Regions from separate parts of the Homo sapiens genome. Here regions 1 and 2 are each linked to region 3. The links come from fine-mapping of genetic effects on gene expression. A gene starts in region 3. Each other region holds a variant in brackets. All regions are shown on one strand. Distances are from middle to middle. Region 1 overlaps COLQ (collagen like tail subunit of asymmetric acetylcholinesterase). Region 2 holds the start of MIR4270 (microRNA 4270). Region 3 holds the start of COLQ (collagen like tail subunit of asymmetric acetylcholinesterase).

Evidence for each region. PIP is the estimated chance that this variant, and not a neighbour inherited with it, causes the effect. A credible set is the group of variants that fine-mapping cannot tell apart.
Region 1: its variant is the best candidate, but not a certain one, in a credible set for the expression of COLQ in thyroid (GTEx, PIP 0.80).
Region 2: its variant is the best candidate, but not a certain one, in a credible set for the expression of COLQ in naive CD4 T cells (Schmiedel 2018, PIP 0.62).

What each region holds. Positions count from the first base shown.
Region 1 is chr3:15,457,542-15,461,750 of GRCh38, forward strand. It overlaps COLQ (collagen like tail subunit of asymmetric acetylcholinesterase), which reads right to left. Exons shown (of 17, transcript NM_005677.4): 13 at 645-784. Among named protein-coding and RNA genes, the nearest start is that of EAF1, 32 kb to the left of the region's middle. The variant C/T (reference allele first, on the strand shown) is at 1,885.
Region 2 is chr3:15,496,230-15,500,410 of GRCh38, forward strand. All of the region lies in intron 1 of COLQ (collagen like tail subunit of asymmetric acetylcholinesterase), which reads right to left. MIR4270 (microRNA 4270) reads right to left here and starts at 79; the gene lies at 10-79. The variant C/CCACACA (reference allele first, on the strand shown) is at 2,240.
Region 3 is chr3:15,519,321-15,523,529 of GRCh38, forward strand. COLQ (collagen like tail subunit of asymmetric acetylcholinesterase) reads right to left here and starts at 2,386. Exons shown (of 17, transcript NM_005677.4): 1 at 2,200-2,386. The coding sequence starts at 2,305.

The DNA of each region.
Region 1 (4,209 bases), 62 kb before region 3:
TTTTCCCTAATAAAAAGTTTAAAATGTTATTTATAGAGTGTGGAAACATGGCAGGATTTCAACTAAGATAACAAAGTATAACTTTTTTTGAGACGGAGTCTCGCTCTGTTGCCCAGGCTGGAGTGCAGTGGTGCTATCTCAGCTCACTGCAATCTCCGCCTCCTGGGTTCAAGCGATTCTCCCACCTCAGCCTCCCAAGTAGCTGAGACAACAGGCGTGCACCACCGCGCCCGGCTAATTTTTTAAATATATTTTTTAGTAGAGATGGGGTTTCACTGTATCGGCCAGGCTGATCTCGAACTCCTGACCTTATAATCCACCCACCTTGGCCTCCCAAAGTGCTGGGATTACAGGCATAAGCCACCATGCCCGGCCAAAAGTACATTTTTATACAATATAATCTCAACCATATAAAAGTTAGATTTTAATAAGACAAAGAAAATACCCCAAAATGGACTCACAATCAAATGGACAATTTGGTTTTCCTCTTGATTTTCTCATATTTTCCAATTTCCTATAATGAGGGTGTACTCAGAGTCGTGAAAAAAAGTTAGTTTTACTGAAAGGATTTTACAAAGCCCCATAAGGATCAGGTGAGAGGTCCTCACGGATAACCACCCCAGACTTCTCCCAGAAAGCCTTACCACAGGAACTCGCGGGGAACTGGGCCCATACACAGATTCCCCGTAGGAAGGGTTATTCACATTCATAGTGGGTCCACAAAGACATCTTCCTGGAGGCCCGGGAAATCCTCTTTCCCCTTTGGGTCCCATTATAAGTTGTCCTAGGAAGCAACAGACTGCTGTGTTACTAGAGCCAAGGAAGAGAAGACCAAACAACCAGGGAGATGTGAGCGACCTTTGCAACAGAAAAAAGGTTAAAGTCCACAGCATTTCAGGGTATGCCTGAGGGAGAGGTTCAAAGAGATGCTTTTGATCCAAGACATGGAGGAGCTAAGGTAAGAAAAATAGCTGGTAGGCGATAGTTTCCCCCTCCTTCCTGCCTTGAAGACAGGCAAGATGTCTGGTGTTGCAGCAGCCGTGTTGCAACCAGGAAGTCACAAGCATGAGAAGATAAGCCAACATGCAGGAAAGACGAAAGGCTCATGGGGCCTGGGGCCCTGACAGTGACAGTCAGAGGCTGAATCAAAGCCAGCTACTGCCTGCCTCTGGATTTCTTTATTGGAGAAAAACAATGTCTTATTTGTTTAGACCATTATTAACAGAGGGCTTCTTGCCGACAAACACATTATTGACTGTTAACTTTTATTGTTTTAAAAAACTTTTGTTTTTCTTATATATAGAATTTTTTTTTTTTTTTGAGATGGAGTCTTGCTCTGTTGCCCAGGCTGGAGTGCAGTGGCACGATCTTGGCTCACTACAACCTTTGCCTCCCAGGTTCAAGTGAGTCTCCTGCCTCAGCCTCCTGTGTAGCTGGGATTACGGGTGTGTGCCACCACACCAGGCTAATTTTTGTATTTTTAGTAGAGACGGGGTTTTGCCATGTTGGCCAGGCTGGTCTCGATCTCCTGACCTCAAGTAATCCGCCCACCTCAGCCTCCCAAAGTGCTGGGATTACAGGCGTGAGCCACCATACCCAGCCAATGTAGGATCTTTACAGAGGAATTTCTGGATGTGGGTTTCTTTCATTTCTTCTGGAAGAAAATAGAACATTAGTATATGCTCTGCCCATTTACCCTCCCCTGGTGCTGAAGAAGTGAGGACATGTCTTGAAAAGATATGATCAGAAAGTGTACTCCCTAGCAATGTGGAAGAACTGTGAGGGTAGTACCTTGGTTTTTAAAGGCTCTGATACCCAGGATACACCTCAGACCAATTCCATCAAGACTTCTGAAAACTGAACTGAACCTAGGCAGCATCCACA[C/T]TTTTATTTATTTATTAAAAAAAATTTTTTTACCACTTTAGCATAAGGCATCCTTTTTTTTTTTTTTTTTGGAGACGGAGCCTCACTCTGTCGCCCAGGGTGAAGTGCAGTGGTGTAATCTCAGCTCACTGCAACCTCCGCCTCTCAGGTTCAAGTGATTCTCCTGCCTCAACCTCCTGAGTAGCTGGGACTACAGGCACGTGCCATCAGGTTTGGCTAATTTTTGTGTTTTTAGTAGAGACAGGGTTTCACTCTGTTGGCCAGGCTGGTCTCGAACTCCTGACCTCAAGTGATCCATCTCCCTTGGCCTCCCAAAGTGCTGGGATTACAGGTGTGAGCTGCCGCGCCTGGTCAGGCACCCATATTTTATTATTATTATTATTATTATACTTTAAGTTTTAGGGTACATGTGCACAATGTGCAGGTTAGTTACATATGTATACATGTGCTAGGCATCCATATTTTTAAAAGCTCTCAAGATGATTCCAATTTGCCCCAAGGTTGAGAACTGGGCCATTCCCCTGCCAGATCATCCTCCCTTCATCCTCCATCCCTCCCCAGCTGCCTCTCAACTCCCTTCTGATCTGGGTTCAAACATCACTTCTTGAAGGAAGACTTTTTGAATCCTCAGACTCTGTCATGTATACCTGGGATACAATTTCATGGTTTCCTATGCCTTTCTTCACAGCACTTCTCTTTGTGATTCTATATATTGTGAGATTATTCCATCAAGGTTGATCTCCAGTAGAATGTCGCTCCACAAGGACAGGGCTAGTGCCTGTTTTCATCCACCAGGGCTTACACAAAGTAGGGGCATGGAAAGTGTTTGATGATCGAATGAATGAATGCCGACTAATTGGAGAGAAAAAGTCTTCAGAAGAGGGTAAAAGTCACATTCTGGCTGGCAGAAAAGCACCAGAACAAAAGCCATCTAACAGGAAGTGAGGAAAGAGAAAAAAAGATGGGGACTGAGAAGAGAAATAGGTAAGGATCCCTTCTTCTGGGAAAATAGCGAGGGGTGGGTTTGGAGGCCAGCCAGTCATTGGTGTCAGGCAGTATGACATCTGGGGCAGCCAGGGGCTGGGAACACAGTTCACAGATCCAGAAGGGCAGGAAATAAAATGACCCCAGGGGAGAGATCTGGCCAGGACCCCAGGGAAAACACTGCAGTCGGAGGAGACTGAACTTTCCTGAGCGAGTTGACAGGTATTCGTACAATCAGAATGCTGACAGCATGAGGGGAAGGGCACTGTGCCAATATCTTATCCTAAGTTATGGTTGTTTGTTCTAACAAGAAATACAAATATAATTCTGTAGGAAGAGCTCCAGTCTGTGTTCTGATATTTTCAGAAGAGCCCAGAGAGACAGGGAATCCACCAGGCTAGGAATATTCTGGGTAATTAAGCACTTGGGGAAATTGAAGTGGAAAAGCTCTGTGACCAAGAATATGAGGGTGGCATTGGAACAGCCTTCCAGAAGGCTCTGTGACCCCAACAACTCCTCCAGAACCATGGCCTGAGAGACAGTCAGGAGTTTGTCCCATTAGCTGCTGATGAATGGTGAGGCTGAGATTTGAATTCATGTTTTACTTAACACTATGCTGTTCAAAAGACAAATGTCCAAGAATACTGATGCTCTCAGGAAGCTGGCAATTCCCAGGTACCACGTTGATTCACTTATACTCTGTCTGGGTACAGGAAGGACTCAGCCAAATTTGTAATTTGATTATTGCAAATTACATCCTAAAGGCATTTTGCCTTTATTCCCCCCCCGACCTCTTAGCCCCTCTTACCCTCTAACTCAGATAAGTACAAAGCTCTCACCCTTTCCACCTCCCCCAGCACCATCTGGTCCCACAGAGCTGGGCACCAGAAACCGAGGTCACCTCCCAACAGGATGTGGCAGGGAGCCTGCTGCCACCACTGCAGTTTCCCTGCAGCTTCCTCCCAGTTGCTGCAGGGCATCTGTTACCCCTGCCTGTTTTCTGCCAGGCTATACTAAAGGACTCAGCAACCTGAACTTCCCCACCCTGACCTCTGGGAGATCATGTCTCAGCTGGGTTTCATCGCCACCCCCTGCAGCCAGAGGACCTGGCTCTCCATCTTTTCCCAGGCAGGCTCCCGCTTCCATTGGCTGCCTCAGTGGGAAAGGATCAGGAAAGGGGAATCTAGGAGAGGGCAGAGGAACCAGCACAACAACCTCTAGGGCCGCCTGGCTGACACTCACCCATTCTGGACCAGGGTGGCCCCCAGTCACTGCTGTGACCTTGCAGGCATCACTTCTCTTTGAGGTTCAAGATTCTTTTCTCTAAGGGGAGGGTAGGAC
Region 2 (4,181 bases), 23 kb before region 3:
TTCCCCCTTGACCCACTTTCTTCCCAGCAGGGGAAGGCCATCTATTTCTGCCCTCCCCTGACTCCCTGAAGCTATTTGTTTTTAGGAGCCTAGTTTATTTACAGCTCATTCCTGTTCAGAATATTTCCATCAGGTGGACGTGTTTGGGAGCAGCTTCCCCCTCCCTCCTCCCTCCCAGTCAACTAAGCCAGGACTTCACATGTCTATTTTGGTGTCATCCGAGTGGCCTGTGGGTCTTTCTCATGGACTGTCTCTATAGAATTGTGTCTGAGCTCAGGCTCCAGTCTGGAAAAGCCCCGGAAGGCTCTGTTGTATTGAAAGCAATCCTGTGCGTATCTCCGTGGAGCCTGCAGAAACCTGGGAGCAGCACGTGGCTCAGCACCAGGCAGCTGCCTTGGAAATGCCAACCATCACGGAACTTCAGGACCGCATGTCCCAACTTAAAGACATCAAGCTCATGTTGTATGTGGCCAGTGCATTGCCAAATTATGGGTAATTGTTTAATGCAGGCTTTGGCAAGTGTTTGAAGCTTTTGTTGTCGATGATGCTGGTTTTGCCCTTTGGACTCAATACCCATTCTTGAAAAGGAGACTTTCTCTTGTTTCATTTCAAGAAACTGAGGCACATCTTTGGAAAGCGATTTTCTCCAATTTACTCTTGGAAAGACATGGATTTGATTAAAGAGTGTTAAGTCTAGGTGCAAGTGGCCATGTGAGCCAGTACAACTCACTTACTCAATCTGAAACTTAGTTTCCTCATCTGTACCACAAAGAGTTTTGCCCAAATCATCTCCAAAGTCCTTTTGCCTTTTTTTTTTTTTTTTTTTTTTTTTGAGACGAAGTCTCACTCTATTGCCCAGGCTGGAGTGCAGTGGTGGGTTCTCAGCCCACTGCAACCTCCGCCTCCAGGGTTCAAGCCACTCTCATGCCTCAGTCTCCTGAGCAGCTGGGATTACAGGCGAGTGCCACCATGCCTGGCTAATTTTTGTATTTTTACTAGAGATGGGGTTTTGTCATGTTGGCCAGGCTGGTCTTGAACTCCTGACCTCAGGTGATCCGCCCACCTCAGCCTCTCAAAGTGTTGGGATTACAGGCATGAGCCACTGCACCTGGCCTCCTTTAGTCCCTTTTTAAAATAAGTATGACACCAGAACCACCACTGTATCCATCTTCATCTACCCTCTTGCAAGGCCAGCCCCACAATAGGTTACTGGAAATAGCCATTTCCATTTCTGCCTTCTGTTTTTCCATCAAGTAGCCTTCCCTCCCACCCCCTCAATCCAACAAATGTGTCATTAGAAACTGTCAAAGGAAAGAAGTGACATAAGCATCCTGCCTCAGCAGGTTGAGAGAATTACAAGTGCAGCCATTTAACTGTTCTGCACCTGCCTGTCCAGTTGGTGGACTAGTCAGCTTTTTACTTCCTCCTCCTCTTTTGGGGCCTTTCCCTGCCTGTGGGAACTTGCATGAGAGAGACAGACCCCAAAGAAGAGAGAAAGCCAAGGGCACACGCTGTATGGCAGCTCAGAGTGCTTTGACTTTATTGTAGTGAGTTGGGTCTCAGCTACAGTAAAGTTCTTACATTAACTGAATGCAATTTGCCCAAAATTCCCCCCAATTCACATGTTCCAGAGAAGGCTGCACCCTACAATTTTCCTTCAATCCCCACAACAAACCTTGAAAGACAAATTCTGATCCTAAAAGTTGCACGTAATTTGAACTTCTCTGAAAGAACATGGTAGAGTTTGCCTTCTGCTGTATGTCCCTGAGCAGGCAAGGATACAACCTACAAAGAACAATTTGTGGTTTGGTGGCTGTGCCTCTGAGCCAAATTACCCAAGGCAGTCCACTCAAGAGTGATGGAGACTGTCTCAGCCACCCAACGCCAGCGGGGGCCCAGACTACAGAACACGATTTTACTTCAAAGCCAAGGTACCAGCTGCCAGCCAAGGTACCAGCTGCCAGCACAAGGTACTTGTGTCAGTCAAGGTCACAAGAGGGACACAGACAAGTGCACACACCCGTTAGCATGTATGCCAGGTCCCCACCAACTCTACTGTGAAACCCCTTTGCATTGCAACTTCAACACTGGCTGAGCAGTTTAAAATTTAAAGGCTTTCACAATGAGAAACAGCCCTGTGAAAGAAAAACTTAAAAAGAAAAAAAATTTAAAGGCTGCTAAAACCTCCTAGTACAGTCTGCTTTCCAAGAGTCTTTTTTCCAAAACAATGCATGTGCAT[C/CCACACA]CACACACACACACACACGTGCACACACGCACACACAACTCACCCAAGCAGCCTGCCGAGTAACAGAGCAGTCCTGAAATGATGAGCAGATGAGCGAGGCTGAATGATGAGCCCGTCATTGTGAGGCAGGGCCCAAAGCGGACTGGCCAGGGAACACTAGCCGGAGACAGGCTGAGATTCGTCACGCCTCTGAGTGCTCCCAGTGCCTGGCCTGTTTGGCATTAGGGGTGGGAGTTGGCCAATCCCTGCTTTGATGTTGCTTCTGCTCCAGATGCCAGGGGTCTGGAGCCAGTCCTGAGCTCCTGGGAGTAGCAATGGGTAGGCAGCCCTGCTCCAGCTGCCCATGAACACTGCTGTAGGGGAGGCTTGGAGGACAAGAGTGCCTTCAGCCCAGGGGAGGATATGAGGTTGGGAGCCCAGGGATACTTATCCCCCTGCAAGCCAAGAGGAAATTGAGAGCAATCAAACAGGCTGCTTTTCATTTGGCTCAAAAACCGACTTGACTCAAAATACCACAGCAGTATTGACTGCTCTGGTAAGCCTCAAAGTCAACCCCCCACCGAGACCGTCCAAGGGGAGCCTGCCCTCCTCTGCTTCAGGGAAGACCTTCATGGCCAGGGGTCTCAGCTCTAATCCTGTCTGGGCCAAAGTGTTGCTGACAAAGCTAAACGTAACTAAAACAACAACAACGAAACCACAAACAAACAAAATATATAGATTTCCAAAGGGCATGTAGGCAAGTCTTTTTGGATGAAGCGGCATATACCAGTTACATGCTTAAATCTATCTGGTACTTTATAGGCACACCCAGTGCACAAGCATGGACACACACAATATTTTAGATTATAAAAGACAAGATTATTATTATACTACTTAGCAATAAGCACTGTTGTTTTGATCAGCTTAGTAAAGACCATAAGCTATAGCAGGAGTCAGCAAACTTTTGCTATAAAGGTCAACATAGTAAATATTTAGGCTTTGTGGGTCACATGGTCTCCGTTACAACCTCACTTTGCCATTGTACAGGACAGCAGCCATAGACAATACATGAAGGAATGAGATTGGTCATGTTTTGTAAAAGTTTACACAAATATAGGAGGCAGGCTGGATTCGGCCCACAGGCTGTAGTTTGCCAAGCCCTGCACTATAACCTTCAAAAGAAAGGACACTTATGTTCATTCATTCATTTACTGTTTTATTCATTCAGAAACACAGTAAGTACCAAATTGTGCAAGACATAATGACTAGACACAGTTCCCGCCCTTGGAATGTGTCGTTCAGTGTCACGGGAAGAGTACTGGCCCTGGAGTCATCCAAGTTGGGCTTAAGTCCTGGTTTTGCCACTTAGTAGCTGTGTGACCTTGAGGAAGTTATTCATTCTTTCGGAGTCTAAGCTTTCTTACTTATAAAGTGGGCGTGCAAAGCCGACTTTGATAGTTTGCTGTGAGGATTAGAGCTACAGCTTTTGGAATTCCTGGCACCGAATAAGGGCTCTCTTATTGACATATTCTTGGATAACTGTTGTATAAGGTAAAAAAAGAAGAGTGGCTAACATAGGGCAGGGATGCCTGAAGGGATTTATAGAAGGAAGAAATGGGTAACGGTTGAGGGGTAGAGGGTCCAAGTGAGATATCAAGGAAGGATTCCTGGAAGAGGTGGGATTTGAGCTGATACTTGAAAGCAGAGACTTGCTATATCAAGATGGGAGGAGTGGGAGGTGAGGCTTAGGCTGTGTTCCTTCTCTGGGGAATTCCCCTTTGTCCTTCTCAGAAACTGGGTCTAAGACCTCAGAGAAAGTAGCAATAAGGCCAGGGAGTCCTCAGTCCTGAGTCCTAGAGAGTTGCAGAAGTATCTGCATCACATTTTCCTGACTTTCTCTATTCTGAGTCATATTCTTGCAGCTCTTCATTTTTCAAATTTCATTTCGCAAACCTTCAGAGAT
Region 3 (4,209 bases):
GCCCTCTGGCTTCAAGTTGGGTTGGCCAATGAGAGGCGCTGCCAAAAGGTGCTTGGATGGGAGGAGAGAGAAGATGGTGTACTTCTCCTTCACTTTCTCCCTGCTTTAGGGCCTTCCATGACCAATGCTCTTGCTTAATGGCCCCTTCTCTAAGGCTCCAAATCTGCCTGGGATCCATTTTCCTATTTGCCCCTCTTGCCTTTTCAAGCACAGGGTGGTAAAGGCATATTGCAGTTGCTAATCTCTAGGTGCCTCAGCATTCCTTGTTGGTTCCCTTAACCCCGCCCACACCTCTCAAAGTGATCCCTTCATTCAGATCTTTTCATCTGAACCACCTGAGTTGCTTCTTTATCCTGCTGTTGCCCTGATTGGTACAGTCTGCAAAAAGCTTACCTAAGAGATATCTATGTTGTGCCAGGGTGCTCTCCAAGGCAAAGAGTTCAAAAGAAAACCAGAGGTTCTTTTCTCTCTAGTTTTCTGAACTCCTTAACCACTTTGGTGCTATTTAAATTAAGTAATACAAAATGATGGTAAACCCCAGTTTGCAGATGAGAAGCTTTTATTCATTCATTCATCAAATATTTATTGATTACTATGTGCCAGGCACTGTTCTGACCCTGGGAAAACAGTAAAGTACAAGAGAGACACATGCCCTGGCCACATGGTGCTTATAGTGTAAGGCCACTGTCTCTCAGAAGTCAGGGAGCTCATCAGAGGCAGGGCTAGAACCAGAAAACTGAGTTTCCTTAAGTCCTAACCTTCAGCAGATTCTCAAAGGAATCCATGACCCAAACATGATTAAGAACCACCAAATTAGGCCAAATTAACTCTCAAGCTTCTCCCTTGAACTGGGGAATGAATAATGACTACTCACTCCTAGAAGAAGCTTGATGCTCTTAACTTGAATTTGCAGGGGCATGTGGGCACACACCCACGGTGACACCACCACTCACCTTTCCTGCCCACCCTCCTGAATTCTCCACAAATCTGCCCCCACCTCCTTCTGTTTCTCACACTTTTATAATTAGCCTCACACCAGTCTCTGAGTCACTCCCTCATGGCCCACAAACGTTGGCTACACAACTTGCTGATGAGCTGTTTTTATCAATGGACAGCAGTTGGGAGCTGGATTCAGAGATGTGCCCTCTCTGAGAGCCTGGCATTTCTGGCCCTCCCTGTGTTTCCAGCAAAGGCAGCGATAGTGAAATTTCTGTCTCAGTTGAAGTATTTATGAGACTCATGTTGGAGGCATAACTAAAACTTTGCTGGGGAGAGTCAGGGGTCACTGAGGTGAATTGAGGGGGGCTGTGAGGGTCTGCCTGCCTCCTTCAAGCCCTCCGGAAACATTTGAGTTTCCTCAGAAAGGTTTAAATAGGCCATACTAGTAACCGAATACTTCCCCTGCTCTGGGTCAGACAAGACAAGGGCAACAGGCTGCTGACCTCAGAAAAGGTTGCAGGCTGGCAGACACAGCCCCTTCCCCAAATCTCCCAGCCTCATACCCGGCAGACACACTCAGCTCCAGACCTGGCTGTCACTGTGGAACCCCCTCCACTTCTCCCTGGAAAGCTCACTTCTCTCAGGACCTCCAGCTGCCTTGTCTGAGGCTGAAGGGAAGTCGCACCCAGGAAGACAGGTCTGGAGAAAGGGAAAACCTAGTCCTGAGGCTGCAACTGCCCCGCCGCTGTTCACCCCCCACCCCACCGGCCCCTGCCACCTGCATTTTCCCTTCGAGGGACTATTGTGGCCATGGATGCTATCTGGGTCTGGAAAGAGGTTTGTTTACTCCACAACAGCCCCTGTGAGGCAAGCCCCCTTCGAAGAGGTCAGAGATGTATTTATAGAAACATCTGAGACTCACTTCTCTATTACTTGCACACCTCTGTCTCTTTTAAGCTCTCCCAAATTCCTGACCAAGATGAAATCATGCAGCAAATGGGGAGAATAGGGGAGGCAGAAACCATTTTTCAAAGTGTCTCTGCTTTGAGCAGCCAGGTAGGAGCCGGTTGGAACAAGGACAGAAGGGGCTTCCGAGACAAGCTCGGGTGACAGGAAGCTGCTGGGGTGGCCGTCTTCCTTCCAACCTCCCTCCACCAACAGTTGAATGGCAAAAACATCAGGACACATTGCAAAACAATCTTCCTTCCTCCCCCTGTCCCCTGACAGATGGAAGAGAGGAAAGTTGTGGCCATCATTTACCTGCTGAGATTGGAAGAACGCTGTTGATGAAAGTCGGCTGAGACACGATAGAGAGGAAGAAAAGCTGAAGATAAATTCCCAAAGTCATTGGATTCAGGACAACCATGCTGGCCAGGGTCTGGCGAGGGTCAAGTTAGAAAGGAGGCTGCTGCGGAGCCTTGCTTATCTCTGCTTTTCTCTTCCTCACTGCTGTTTGCGTGCGCGTGTGTTTGTGTGTGTGTGTGTGCGTGTGTGTGTGTGTCTGTGTGTGTGTGTGTCTTTCCCTCTTTCTCTTTCCCTCTCCCTCCTCCTCACCCCCTCCCTCTCTCTCCCTCCCCCACCTCTCCTGTCTCCCATGCCTTTACCAAGAAAGAATGCCAACCATTTCCCATTAAACTGTCTCCATGCTACAGAGAGTTATATTTATCTCAAGCTCCATATCAAATGCCCACATTAAAATTAAGATGTCAAAATTTTCTTTTTTGGAGACTGAGGTAAGTGGCTAGTGAAGAGGTGATGAGAAGGCAGCCAAGTCTCAGATGTTCACTGGAGGCAGTCCTCAAGGGCAGAGAGATTCCTAATTGGTTATGTGCCACCATCTACCTCCTTGGAACTGGGCAGAAACAACTCTCCTGATTCAAACTGAATTTCATGGAGAAAAACCCCTCCACTGTCAGCCTGTGACATTTTTACCCATTGTGTAACAAATGTAAAGTTAACTTTTAATTTTTTTCTTTAATCATCCAATAAAAAGGAGGAAGGAAGTAGTTTATATTTCCAAACAGCTTTCTCTGTGAAAAAGTGTTTCTCTCTCCAAAAGCTGCAACCTTTTGATTCAATGCAAGGCAAAATAAATGAAAACAGTAAAAGTATAGAAAAGTGAATGATTTTTATCAAACTATATTCAGAAAAATAACATCACTAACTTAATCTTTGGCTAGACAAAATTATTCAAATAAAAATTATCACATTCTTAATACCTTTTATGAGTTTATAAAAGCCTGTTATAGAGATGATTAGATGACTAAAACAAAATAATAATTCACAGAGTTGTTCATTTTGCTTTAATTTACATATTACATGCCTCATAGGAGTTAACTCAGAAACAGTCTGCTAGTTACTGGATGCTGGGGTGGGCATCCTGCCCCTGTGCTCATTATGGGGAAGGTGGAGTTGGGTCAGGGCGTGGTATAAAGTGATATTTTACAGCTGTAGCACCACACTTGGGCTTGACTCTCAGCTCTGAGTGGCAGTGGACAAGCTCACCTCTCTAAGCCTCAGTTTTCTCATCCATACAATGGAGACAATGTTCCCTTTAAAGGTTTGTTGGAAAGTTAAGTGAGGTAATGGGGATGAATCCTACACGGATTAGAACTTGCACATAGGAACAGCACAAAGGAGACCCAAGGGAGCCATGGTAGCCTGGGTGCAAAGATGGCCTCCAAAAGTCCTCCCAACCCAGTGTGTGCATGACACTCTTCCCAGCAAAAAGCAGGGCTAGTTCCCCTCCCTTAAATCTGAGGTGGCTCTGTGACTTACTTTGACCAATAGAATGTGGCTAAAGGGACACTGTGCCATCTCCTGGCCTAGGCCTTAAAAGGCCTGGCAGCTCCTGCTTTTGCCTTTTCTTGAAAATCAGCTGCCACTTTAAAAAGTCTGGACTATTGAAGAGGCCACATGGAGGGGGAAGCAGCCAGCCTCCAGCTGTTCTGACTATCCCAGATGCAGCATCAACAGGCGAGTGAGGCCATTTTGGAACATCTAGCCCTGTCCTGGTCTCAGATGATGCCAGCCACAGGAGTGACCCCAAGTGAGACCCTCGAAAGAACTGCCCAGCCCAGATTACGAAGTCATGAGCAAATAAAACGGCTATTGTTTCAAACCAGTAAGTTTTAGGATGACTTGCTCATCAGCAATAGCTAACTGATACAGAGTTGATAAGGAAAGCTTTTGAAAGCATGAAAAATATACCTGAACTACATTCAAAATTTATAGGACAGATTAAAGAGAGGGTACCCCCATTTAGCTGCT